Regions from separate parts of the Homo sapiens genome. Here region 2 is linked to region 1. A link means that fine-mapping ties the variant in region 1 to the expression of a gene that starts in the linked region. Tissue or cell type: whole blood. Region 1 holds a variant in brackets; the other region holds the start of a gene. All regions are shown on one strand. Distances are between the middles of the regions.

Evidence for each region. PIP is the estimated chance that this variant, and not a neighbour inherited with it, causes the effect.
Region 2: it holds the start of MYADM, and the variant in region 1 is fine-mapped to the expression of MYADM in whole blood (INTERVAL, PIP 0.92).

What each region holds. Positions count from the first base shown.
Region 1 is chr19:53,827,567-53,830,404 of GRCh38, forward strand. No RefSeq gene overlaps it. Among named protein-coding and RNA genes, the nearest start is that of NLRP12, 4.7 kb to the left of the region's middle. RefSeq lists an enhancer at 1,989-2,758. The variant G/GT (reference allele first, on the strand shown) is at 1,546.
Region 2 is chr19:53,866,340-53,868,988 of GRCh38, forward strand. MYADM (myeloid associated differentiation marker) reads left to right here and starts at 1,544. Exons shown (of 3, transcript NM_138373.5): 1 at 1,544-1,604. MYADM-AS1 (MYADM antisense RNA 1) reads right to left here. Exons shown (of 3, transcript NR_184033.1): 1 at 2,570-2,649. RefSeq lists enhancers at 349-1,324, 2,434-2,649.

The DNA.
Region 1 (2,838 bases):
TCACTGCATTCCAGGCTGGGTAACAGAGACACCATCTCAAATAAATAAATAAATAAATAAATAAATAATAGAAGTTGTCACCACCACCTGCTTGCCACTCCCTTGAATTCTTTCCTGTGTGAAGCCAAGAACTATCCCGGGGTAAGCCCTGTTTTGGGGCCTCACTTGCCTAGCATCACAAGGATAAACCCATTCAAAGCAGGTGCTAATTTGCCCTGTTGGTTTTCAACTAGAAGAGAAATTATTATCATCAGGGACATTTATAAAAATTATATATAGAAGGCTGGGTGTGGTGGCTCACGCCTGTAGTCCCAGCACTTTCGGAGGCCAAGGTGGGCAGATCACTTGAGGTCAGGAGTTTGAGACCAGCCCGGCCAACATGGCGAAACCCCGTCTCTACTAAAAATACAAAAATTAGCCGGATGTGCTATCGCGCACCTGTAATTCCAGCTACTCGGGGGGCTGAGGCACGAGAATCACTTGAACCTTGGAGGTGGAGGTTGCAGTGAGCCGAGATCACGCCACTGCACTCCAGCCTGGGTGACTGAGTGAGACTCTGTCTCAACAACAACAACAAATTAAAAATAAAAAAATAAATAAAAATACAAAAATTATCCAGGCATGGTGGCGTGTGCCTGTAATCCCAGCTACTCGGGAGGCTGTGGCAGGACAATCTCCTGAACCTGGGAGGCGGAGGTTGCAGTAAGCCGAGATCACACCACTGCACTCCAGCCTGGGCCACAGAGTGAGACTCCGTCTCAAAAAAAAAAATTATATATAGATGAAATATTTTATATACATTACAATAAGAATTATAAATATATAAATATGTATATGAAATTGGTCCCTCTCTAGACTTCCTGAATCAGGATCTTGGTGGGGCAGGGGCCATCAAACATATGTTTCTTTTTCCTTTTTTTCTTATATTAATTTTTTGAATAGAGATGAGGTCTCACTATGTTGCCCAAGCTGGTCTGGAACACCTGAGCTCAAGTGATCCTCCCACCTCAGCCTCCCAAAGTGCTGGGATTACAAGTGTGAACCACCACGCCTGGCTAAATACATGTTTTTATAATATAAAGCTCCCCTAGTGATTCTGCTGAGAAACATTTCTCTGTGTTAGTACTAGAAAGGCACAGAGAAATGCTTGTTTTTCTATCAGCAGAATTTCCCTTTTGCCATTCCGGAAGAGACCTGTTTCCTTTGAGGGAATACTTTGAGAAGTCACTTGAGTATGAAATCTGTTAACTGGAGAAATTTTGCAGTATGGTGTTTGCTTGTTTGCAGGTAAAACTAAATCATTCAGGATAAAAAGGCATTTTAGAAGCCACGTGGGGAAAGGCAGAAGGAAAGGAAATAGGAGGTGTCAGGTGCCTGGGAAGAACATTTGGAGGGTTTATGGAGATGAGTAATAGGAATTTAAATTGCTTTACTATATGGTGTACGATGAAAACTGTCTTCTACCCCAACCAAACCCATCATCAGTAAAACCTATGCTGCTCGCTAGCACGTTGTGAACATGGATTTGCTGCGTTTTTTTGTTTT[G/GT]TTTTTTTGCTTTTTCTGAGACAGTTTCGCTCTTTCTGCCCAGGCTGGAGTGCAATGGCGCCATCTTGGCTCACTGCAATCTCCTCTTCTCGGGTTCAAGCGATTCTCGTGCCTCAGCCTCCAAGTAGCTGGGACCACAGGCGCGTGCCACTACACCCGGCTAATTTTTGTATTTTTAGTAGAGACAGGGTTTCACTGTGTTGGTCAGGCTGGTCTCAAACTCCTGACCTCAGGTGATCTACCTGCCTCGGCCTCCCAAAGTGCTGGGATTACAGGCGTGAGCCACCATGCCTGGCCTGATTTGCTTTTACAGGCAGTGTGACAAAATGGTGTCTCTAACTGGCATTGAATGACTGTCCCGTGGGAGGCCACATCTGAGGTTTCTGTGCCTCTTTGTTGTCACATAGAGAGGATACCGAGTGCTACCCACTGTTCCCATGACCATCACCAGCATCACTAGCTCACCACGAACTGGCTAGAAAATGGAAATCATCATTCTCCACCTATGAATGGGGAAACTGAGGCTGAGAGGGAAGCTCTGAGTGTGTGGCCTACACAGCAGTGCTGGAAAATGATGGAGACGACTCTGAAAGCCAGTTCTGGCTCCAAACTTCAAGCAGCTAAAATCCTCATCAGCTTGTACAATGAGGCCAACCCTCCAATTTGAAAGAGGGATAGACTGAGGTCCAAAGTAGCAAAGTCACCTGCAGACCATCATATAGCACTCAAAAGTTGCCCAGGGGCTGCTAGGATGCAGTCTTCTTCTTCCTTTTTTTTTTTTTTTCTAATGAGATGGAGTCTTGCTCTGTCACAAGGCTGGAGTGCAGTGATGTTATCTCAGCTCACTGCAACCTCCACCTCCTGGGTTCAAGCAATTCTCCTGTCTCCGCATCCCGGGTAGCTGCGATTACAGGCACCTGCCACCACTCCCAGCTAATTTTTGTATTTTTAGTAGAGACGGATGATCTCGATCTCCTGACCTCGTGATCCACCCGCCTCGGCCTTCCAAAGTGCTGGGGTTACAGGCGTGAGCCACCGCGCCCAGCCACAGTCACTTTCATCAGGGCCTGAGTGTAGGGGTTGTGAAACTTCCTCCCCTGTGAGCTATGTCCTCACTTTTACCACAGACCCTGGCAGGAAACATCCTGGCTGTGACTTTCCCTGTGGGTTTTAGGAACAGTTGCACAGGGTCCAGCCCCACCACAGGCTCCACTACCCTTGCCCTGATCAATCGGGAAGATTCAGCCACAGCTGATGGTACTAAAACTTTGGTTTTTTTTTTTTTTTGAGATG
Region 2 (2,649 bases), 39 kb after region 1:
GAGCATCCGCAGCCGCCACCAGGCCCCGCCCAGCGGCCGCAGCCAGCCAGGCCGCGCCCGGGACGACTGCAGAGCGCGGTGAGTGAACGCGGCCAGAGGGAGGGACTCAGGCGTCCCAGGTCCCCGCCCTGCCCCTCCCCGGGGGCCCGACATCCCGACCCTCAGCTCCCTCTTTTTCTTTTGGCTCCGGCAGTCCGTTTTAGGGCCGCAGAGCCGCCTTTTAAAAACACACCCTGCATCCCTTCCCTGCCCTGGGGCTTCGGGCCCACCAGCCCCTTGGATCCCTTCCCCTCTTGCAGGATCCGTGAATCCAGAGCCCCAAGCCCCAGCCCCAGCCCCATCCTCATTAAAATTCTGAGTCCCTCCCTCCATCCAGGAGTCAGGAATGTAGGCCAAAAATATCGCTGCCTTCCAGACCCAGGCGGCTAGGCTTGCAACACCTGCTCGGAAAACCCGAGTCTGAGCTTTAATGGTTCTATTATGATGATCATGATGATTTATTTTTAATAGAGCAGAGTCTCCTTATGTTGCCCAGGCTGGTCTCGAACTCCTGGGCTCAAGGGATCCTCCCTCCTCAGCCTCCCGAAATGCTGGGATTACAGGCGTGAGCCACCGCGCCCAGGCCTGATTGTTCTTTTGAGCCAAGAATCTGGGCCTCAGCCTAGGCATCCTGTGGAGCCCAGGAATCCGGGCCCCCAACTGCTACCGCGCTAGCTCCCAGGAATTTTGCCCCCAACACACCCCACCCCTATCCACTGTGATATCTGAGACCTGCGTCCAGCCCGAGTCCCTTACCCTGCGGCGCCCGGTGCCAGTGGGTACTAGGGGAGCATTTTGCCGCCCCTTCAAGTCCTTAAATACAGGAATCTAGCCTCTGTTTCTTGGGGAGACCCATCAGTCAGGGATCGTAGCCCAGAACCACCTAAAGCCCAGGAATACTGCTCTCAATTCTGCTCTCCCTCAGGGCTCCAAGAGACAGAGATCCTAGCCCCCCCATTGAACTGAGGGGCCTGGTCCCCCAATCCGCTGCGACCCAGGTGTCTAAGGTTTCATCCGGCAAGGAAGGGGTGGGGGCGGAACAGACCAGGAAGGAGGGGGTAGGAAGGGAGCGGAAGAAAGGAGTGAGGTGAGACGGGGGCGGGGACCTGAGCTGGGGGGCTCTGCACTAAACAAACCCTAAACATGCGGGGTTTCTATGGTAACGGTCTTCCCTGGCCTACCCGGGAGACTCCTCTAGGGCTGTGTCGAGGAGGGCAGCCCCCAGGAGTCTCCACGCCGCCAGCTGTTGTGTCTTCCTGTTTTGTCACCACGGCAACCGTGACCTCAGCCCTCCACCCTGCTCACTGGGGTGGGGCGGGAGCTCCACGCTACTTTTACTCTGGGGGGCGTGGTCTGCTCTTGGCCCCGCCTCGGGGCGGGGCTGGGATAGCCCAGACTCGGGGAAGTCCCTGTCCACCGCCCTAGCCGGAGCTGCGCCCCGCCCCGGCCCCGCCCCCGTCCCGCCCGCGCTGGCTCCCCAGCCCTCCAACCCCACCCAGCCCTCAGACCCTTCCAGCTGCCGCTGTCGTCTTTGCTTCAGCCGCAGTCGCCACTGGCTGCCTGAGGTGAGGTTGTGGGGACCCCAGAGGGCATAAGCAACAGTCTAGGGTCTTTATGGCCAGAGAGAGGAATGGGCTGGGTCTCAGAATGTCTGGGTCCCTAGAAAGACTGGGGCTGGGCCAGGATTCTTGGGGTTCTGCAGAGGAGAGGGCTGAGGACCTGGACTGTGGAGGTCATACGTCTGGAAGAGTGGGGAAGGGGACCTGGACTCCGGGGTCTGAGGGAGGAGGGGCTGGGGGTCTGGACTCCCGGGTCCGAGGCAGGAGGGGCTGGGGGGTCTGGACTCCTGGGTCCGAGGGAGGAGGGGCTGAGGGCCTGGACTCCTGGGTCTGAGGGAGGAGGAGCTGGGCCTGGACTCCTGAGTCTGAGGGAGGAGGGGCTGGGTCTGCGGGAGTAGAGAGATGGGGACTCGTAGGTGCCCTAGTTGGAGGCTGGAATCTGGTACGTGGAGGTCCTTTAGGAGGGGAAGCGCTTAGGGTTAGGTGTCCTGGGTTTGGGAATGAGAATGGAAGGAATTCAGAATTACTGACCCCTCCCCATCCAGGGGACAGACAGAATCGGAACTTTGGGCTCCTGAAAGGCCGAGGGAGGGGGGTGTTAAGATCCAGCCCCGTGCTTCCGAAGTGCAGAAGGAGCTGGGAAAGGAGGAGAAGACAGGGCTGCGTCCCGCACCTCTGGGTGCCGAGAGCCGAAGCTGGGGTTCCGGGGCCCGATTCTCAGCGTGAGCGATGGGTGTGGCGTCTGGAGTGGACGAGGGAGGACACTGAGGGGCTGGGTGTGGCCCGGAGAGTCGGGTGCGCTGCGAGGAATCCCGGAGGGGTGTTTCCTCACCCTCCAGGGTCTGGCTGCGCATTCCTGAGCTCTGATCTCGGGCGATGGCTGGAGGCCCTAAGGGCGGGGTGGACCCCTCCCCTCCCCTCCCCTCGGCGCGCCCCCCTCCCCTGCGCGCCCCCCTCCGCGGCTAGCCCACCTTCCGCGGGGGACAGAATGAGTGACGCCCTCGCTCGTCCTCCTCCCCTGCTTGGGACGGGGCAGTAGCCCGCCTTCTAG